Linked DNA regions of Homo sapiens. The protein of the gene in region 1 purifies or fractionates together with the protein of each later gene. This does not show direct contact. Each region holds a gene or a part of one and is shown in the gene's direction. Other genes may lie near its edges.

Region 1 (2,563 bases):
TGGCTCCAAAGTGCAGACGCTGTTTCTCAGCAAAAAGGAGCTGCCGGGCGTGCTGGAGACAGAGGTCACCTACCAGTTCATCGACCAGAGCTTCCAGGAGTTCCTCGCGGCACTGTCCTACCTGCTGGAGGACGGCGGGGTGCCCAGGACCGCGGCTGGCGGCGTTGGGACACTCCTGCGTGGGGACGCCCAGCCGCACAGCCACTTGGTGCTCACCACGCGCTTCCTCTTCGGACTGCTGAGCGCGGAGCGGATGCGCGACATCGAGCGCCACTTCGGCTGCATGGTTTCAGAGCGTGTGAAGCAGGAGGCCCTGCGGTGGGTGCAGGGACAGGGACAGGGCTGCCCCGGAGTGGCACCAGAGGTGACCGAGGGGGCCAAAGGGCTCGAGGACACCGAAGAGCCAGAGGAGGAGGAGGAGGGAGAGGAGCCCAACTACCCACTGGAGTTGCTGTACTGCCTGTACGAGACGCAGGAGGACGCGTTTGTGCGCCAAGCCCTGTGCCGGTTCCCGGAGCTGGCGCTGCAGCGAGTGCGCTTCTGCCGCATGGACGTGGCTGTTCTGAGCTACTGCGTGAGGTGCTGCCCTGCTGGACAGGCACTGCGGCTGATCAGCTGCAGATTGGTTGCTGCGCAGGAGAAGAAGAAGAAGAGCCTGGGGAAGCGGCTCCAGGCCAGCCTGGGTGGCGGCAGGTGCGTCTCCAGGGCAGAGATACTCTCTTGTGTGTGAGGTGTGTGTGCCGGTGCAAACCTGTGCACCTCAGTGTCCATCTGGCATGGGGCGCACCTCCAGACCAGACCCTGGCTCCCCAGATGGGGAGGCTTTGACCACCTCCTTGCAAGGCAACCACTGAATTCCTATCTTCTTCCCCAGGGTGTCCTCACCATGCCCACCGTCAGCCACCCACAACCTATGAAAACTTCCTAGTATGGCCCTACAGCTCTGGCCCAGCCCTTCTTCCCATTTTACTTTCTGACAATAAGCTCTGGAACACACGATGCCCTCTGTCCAGAGCCTCTGCACTTGCCCTTCCCTCCACCTAGAATATTCTGTTTGCTGCCTGTCCTGCAAGTCTGCCCTGGCTCCCCCAGCTGGCTGGGGACCCAACTGGCTCCAGAAGTACCCTTTCGACCACCCTGCTGTGACATCTGCCCCACACCTCCACCAGACCCTCGGCTCCTCCAGGGCAAGGCTTTTGCCAGAGTTCCTTTGAATATAGCTCCAATTCAGCCCCTGCCCAGGGGCTTGGCATCTGTTGAGAGGATGAATGTCACGGTGTTGGCAGGGGCTGGGCCTGGGGACCCAAAGACCCATGTAGAGGATGTGGGTGATACCGTCCCACTGACCTCACTCAGACACCCCAGTGGGATGATGCCTGGGCCACAGATGAGTGGTTTTGCTCTGGGTTTGGTTGGGGGAGTGTGAAGGGGGTGGCTCAGCAAGGAGGTGAGGAGGAGGGGCAGCTCTGAGACCCCAGGACTACAGATAGACAGGAGTCCTTTCCGGCAGGCACTGTGAGGAGCAGGGTGGGCTTCACCTTCCTCTCTCTCCCAGCAGTTCTCAAGGCACCACAAAACAACTGCCAGCCTCCCTTCTTCATCCACTCTTTCAGGCAATGACTGACCCACTGTGCCATCTGAGCAGCCTCACGTGAGTGGCCACACCCCCAGCTCTTCCCACGGAGCGGGCTGAGAGCAGGATGCCCTGGGCAGAGACGGAAGTATGACCTAGGAAAGAAGGCTGAGGGGTCAGACCAGAGCCTGAGGCCTGTGGGTGCTGGAGATGGCAGGCTCTGCCCACACAGAGCAGAGGGAGGAGGGGATGAGGGTCTGGGGCTTCATTACCAGGTTAGGTACTGGTAGGAAAAGGTTGGTCCTGGTGAGTGGAAAGCAGCTAAGCACACTGAGGGAGGGATTAAAGAAGACAAGAGTGTATTTTCCTTCTGAAGGGAGGCTGCCGTTGGAAACTGCTGGGTTCTCAGAAGCAGTGGAGGAAGGTGTTCAAGCGCAGGCTCCAAGGTCAGGCTGTCTGCAAATGCTAGCCGGCTTCTGCGTGCCCAGTAGCAAGTCCATCTGTCCGAGCTTCCATTTCCTCCCCTGTGAAATGGAGCCAGTAGATCCAGAGAGTTGGGGTGAGATTTAATGTGGCTACACATGTACAGTTCTTTTTTTTTTTTTTTTTTTTGAGACGGAGCCTCGCTCTGTCGCCCAGGCTGGAGTGCAGTGGTGTGATCTCAGCTCACTGCAAGCTCCGCCTCCCGGGTTCACGCCATTCTCCTGCCTCAGCCTACTGAGTAGCTGGGACTACAGGTGCCCGCCACTACGCCCGGCTAATTGTTTGTATTTTTAGTAGAGACAGGGTTTCACCGGGTTAGCCAGGATAGTCTCGATCTCCTGACCTCGTGATCCACCCGCCTCTGCCTCCCAAAGTGCTGGGATCACAGGCATGAGCCACCGCGCCCGGCCACATGTACAGTTCTTACATGGCAATAACTTGCCAGTCACTCTTAGCTACCACCAAGTGAGCAGAAAGGAAGAGGAAATCTAGGAACTAGTACTGATG
Region 2 (3,822 bases), on another chromosome or scaffold:
AGCAACACTCCATCTCAAAATAAAATAAAATAAAATAACCTGTGTTCTTCACAGCAACAAAATTATTTTTGTTTGTTTTGTTTTGTTTTGCAGTTAGTGTGACTCTGGATCCAGATACAGCTCATCACGAACTAATTCTCTCTGAGGATCGGAGACAAGTGACTCGTGGATACACCCAGGAGAATCAGGACACATCTTCCAGGAGATTTACTGCCTTCCCCTGTGTCTTGGGTTGTGAAGGCTTCACCTCAGGAAGACGTTACTTTGAAGTGGATGTTGGCGAAGGAACCGGATGGGATTTAGGAGTTTGTATGGAAAATGTGCAGAGGGGCACTGGCATGAAGCAAGAGCCTCAGTCTGGATTCTGGACCCTCAGGCTGTGCAAAAAGAAAGGCTATGTAGCACTTACTTCTCCCCCAACTTCCCTTCATCTGCATGAGCAGCCCCTGCTTGTGGGAATTTTTCTGGACTATGAGGCCGGAGTTGTATCCTTTTATAACGGGAATACTGGCTGCCACATCTTTACTTTCCCGAAGGCTTCCTTCTCTGATACTCTCCGGCCCTATTTCCAGGTTTATCAATATTCTCCTTTGTTTCTGCCTCCCCCAGGTGACTAAGGAAAAGAGCAGAAGCTCCTTGGTTTAACCAGCACAGAGAAAATAATATAAATCCCATAAGGGCAGACGTTTGGTCTGTTTTCTTCGCTGTCATTTCCTTAGTAGTTAGACTAGTGCTGAGATTTTAGTGGATATATAATTGATTTATGTTGAATATATGGACTTAGCAACTAAAAATACCACAGATGGTTAACCTGGACTGGGGCAAAGCAAGATAATAGTGATGATCGTATGTTGCTGTCTCCATCCGTCTTTAATGGGTCAGGGCTTTGATTTCCAAGGGTCTTCAGGTGATGAGTAGGGGTACCCACAAGTCAGAAGGTCTGCGTTCTCCTAGTTTGTTTGCTGCCATTTGAACTCATGTAGGGAATGAAAGAAAGCTGCAATTATCCGCCAACTGCATTTAAAACAAAACAAAACAGAAAAATCAAAATAACATTGACTCTTCCAACCACTGACATGTTGTTTAATAATCTAAGCGGCAGTCCTGGAGGCTACCAGACTTACTGAGTTCTACCTGAGAAACAGCCAAGCAAAGTGTGAGAGAAGGGTTAAGACTGGCTTACAATGAGATGCTTCAAATGAAAAGGGAATTATGAGTAAAATTGAACTTTGATGGGGGATTCAGTTCTGGAAAAGAATTTGGTATTTTCCAGTCTGCTAGGACCAATTACCTTGAAATATTTTAAAATCTCAGTAAATAGTTATTGCTGAAATGGCTGTTGGCAGTTCTTATTATGATTCAGAGAAGAGCAAATAGACCTTAACTTCATTTTGAAAAAGACCAAATTACCATACCCGAGTGAGTAATGACAGGACTACAACTAAAACATAAACAACATTAATGATGACCATAAAAAGTCACAAAATTGCTAAATGTTATAATTTAGAGTTGACATAAAAATTGATGGCCAGGCATGGTGGCTCACGCCTGTAATCCCAGAACTATGTGAGGCTGAGGCAGGTGGATCACTTGAGGTCAGGAGTTCAACACCAGCCTGGCCAACATGGTGAAACCCTGTCTCTACTAAAAATACAAAAATTAGCCGGGCATGGTGGTAGGGGCCTGTAACCCAGCTACTCGTGAGGCCAAGGCAGGAGAATTGCTTGAGCCTGCAGCAGCTGCAGTAAGCCAAGATCATGCTGTGCCTCAAGGAAAAAAAAAATTAATGTTTACTGATATTTGTTGAAGTCCTACAACATCACCTCTGAGAATAGGAGAAATGAAGCAACAGTTGTGTCTAGATGTCAGAGGCATGGCTGGGCCTCCATCTCTGCCTAAGGGAGATATAAAAGAGTTCAAACTATTGCCCATGTTCCCCAGGGTCAGAAGTTCTAATTATGATGATAGAGGCTGGGTTGTAAGTAGTAAGTGAAGGGTAGCAGAATATGCCATCTTTGGCATAAGAAGTATTTTGAGTTGAAGACAATTGAGAAAAAAAATAGATTAAAAACAAACAAACACCTCTGCCCTCTCCCTATTTGCCTAAAAGCAGGATATGAAATTGTGAAGGTGTCTTCTTACTCGGGGAAGAACAAAAGTTAGTCACCAGAGACTTTAGACTCTTATCAGCCTGGACATAGCACCAGAGAAGTCTTTTTTTTTAAAAAAAAAAAAAAAAAAAGGGAAAGAAAAAGTTGCCTTCCCACAATTTACTGCACTAGAAACTCAAAGTCCTTTTCGTCTTCCTTGTCACTTAAAAAATGTATTCTTTTCTTAAAATGCTATATAAGCCCAAGTTCTAAATCCTCTTTTGAGTATTCATCTCAGTACTCCCCTGTGTTTGTACAATGCACATGCTTTGTTTCTGTCTTGTCAATCTGTCTTTTGTTAGTCTACTTGATAGGGCCACAGATGGAGAACCTAAGATGAATAGAAAAAAAAGATTTTTCTCCCCAACAGAAGGATTATCGCCAGTTGCACTTGTTCTATATACCCGTAGTCTCGGTATGCTGACCCAGACTTGGGTAATAGGACCCAGTGGGTAACCGAGGAACCCCACCTTTGTGCAGGATCAGTGAAGATGTAATCTGGATATTCATAAGCTCTTCTCTACCTCTTGGCATCCCACAGTCCTGTGTTAATGTAAGTGTGGTCTTCCCCAGAAAGGGGAGGCCTCCCTAACATTGTTAAAGCCTAGCATATGCTGCTTAGAGGAAATTCTATATCCCTAAGCACTTAGATTGCTGAATAAGAAAGAATGATAATAAAATAAACAATTAAATAAAAGTTTTAAAAAATGAATAAAATAAACCTGTGGAAACTATAAGGAAGGCCAGAAGAAATATAAAATTGGAGATTAATTGGGGTGCAGGAAAGTTATGGAAAGAATATAAGTCCTGCTAGATAAATCATTAGCTATTTTAATAAAGAATACAGAAGAAAATAGGAACAAAAGAATATATACTGGAATAATTTTGAGAGTAATTTGAAGAATTAGATGCAAATAAATTTGAAAACCTTTAAAAAGAAACCAATGGCCTAACTGACCCAAGAAGGGAAAGAAAATCTAAACAGACTGATAAATACAAAATGAAATTCAGACACTTACAGAGCAGCCAGGCATGGTGGCTCACACCTGTAATCCTGTCACTTTGGGAGGCTGAGATGGGAGGATCACTTGAGGCTAGGAGTTTGAGACTAGCCTGGGCAAGGCTCCCATCTCTAAAAGAAAAGAAATTAGCTGGGCATGGTGGCATGTGCCTTAGTTTCAGCTACTCAGGAGGCTGAGACGAGGATTGCTTGAGCCTAGGAGGGCAAGGCTGCAGTGAGCCATGGTCATGCCACTGAATTCCAGCCTAAGTGACAGAGCAAGACCTTGTCTCAAAAAAAAAAAAAAAAAAAGTTACAGAGCTCCAACTAAATAATGTGGGGAACAAAAGAAAAAAGAAGATGATTTTATGGCTGATTTTTTTTTTAAGGAAAAGCAATTCATGTACCCTTGAAGATTAGATTAAGTTCTATAAAATAGCCCAAAATGACAGTGGCTGAAACAAGTTTATTTCTCTCCCATTTAAAGCAAGTCTAGATGTGGAAGTCTGGGAAGCCCAGAAAATCCAGGTCTTGTTTGTGTATGGAAACTCCAGAAAATCACAGATTCCTTCCAGCCACCCCTCAATTACCCCTGGGATCCAAGAGAGCCACTAAAGTTCCAGCCATCATACTCACAACCCAAGTTGTAGGATGGAAAAAAGGACACAAAAG

The links.
Region 2: the proteins of NLRP6 (region 1) and TRIM38 purify together in Homo sapiens (affinity purification with western blotting, with the first as the bait; one study listed by BioGRID). This does not show direct contact.

What each region holds. Positions count from the first base shown.
Region 1 is NC_000011.10:281,147-283,709, forward strand, and holds part of NLRP6 (NACHT, LRR and PYD domains-containing protein 6), read left to right. Parts: coding exon 1-693; intron 694-1,555; coding exon of another isoform or gene 1,556-1,558; coding exon 1,559-1,651; exon of another isoform or gene 1,652-1,721; intron 1,722-2,563.
Region 2 is NC_000006.12:25,983,071-25,986,892, forward strand, and holds part of TRIM38 (E3 ubiquitin-protein ligase TRIM38), read left to right. Parts: intron 1-93; coding exon 94-617; 3' UTR 618-3,822. UniProt on the Homo sapiens protein: E3 ubiquitin-protein and E3 SUMO-protein ligase that acts as a regulator of innate immunity. Acts as a negative regulator of type I interferon IFN-beta production by catalyzing 'Lys-48'-linked polyubiquitination of AZI2/NAP1, leading to its degradation.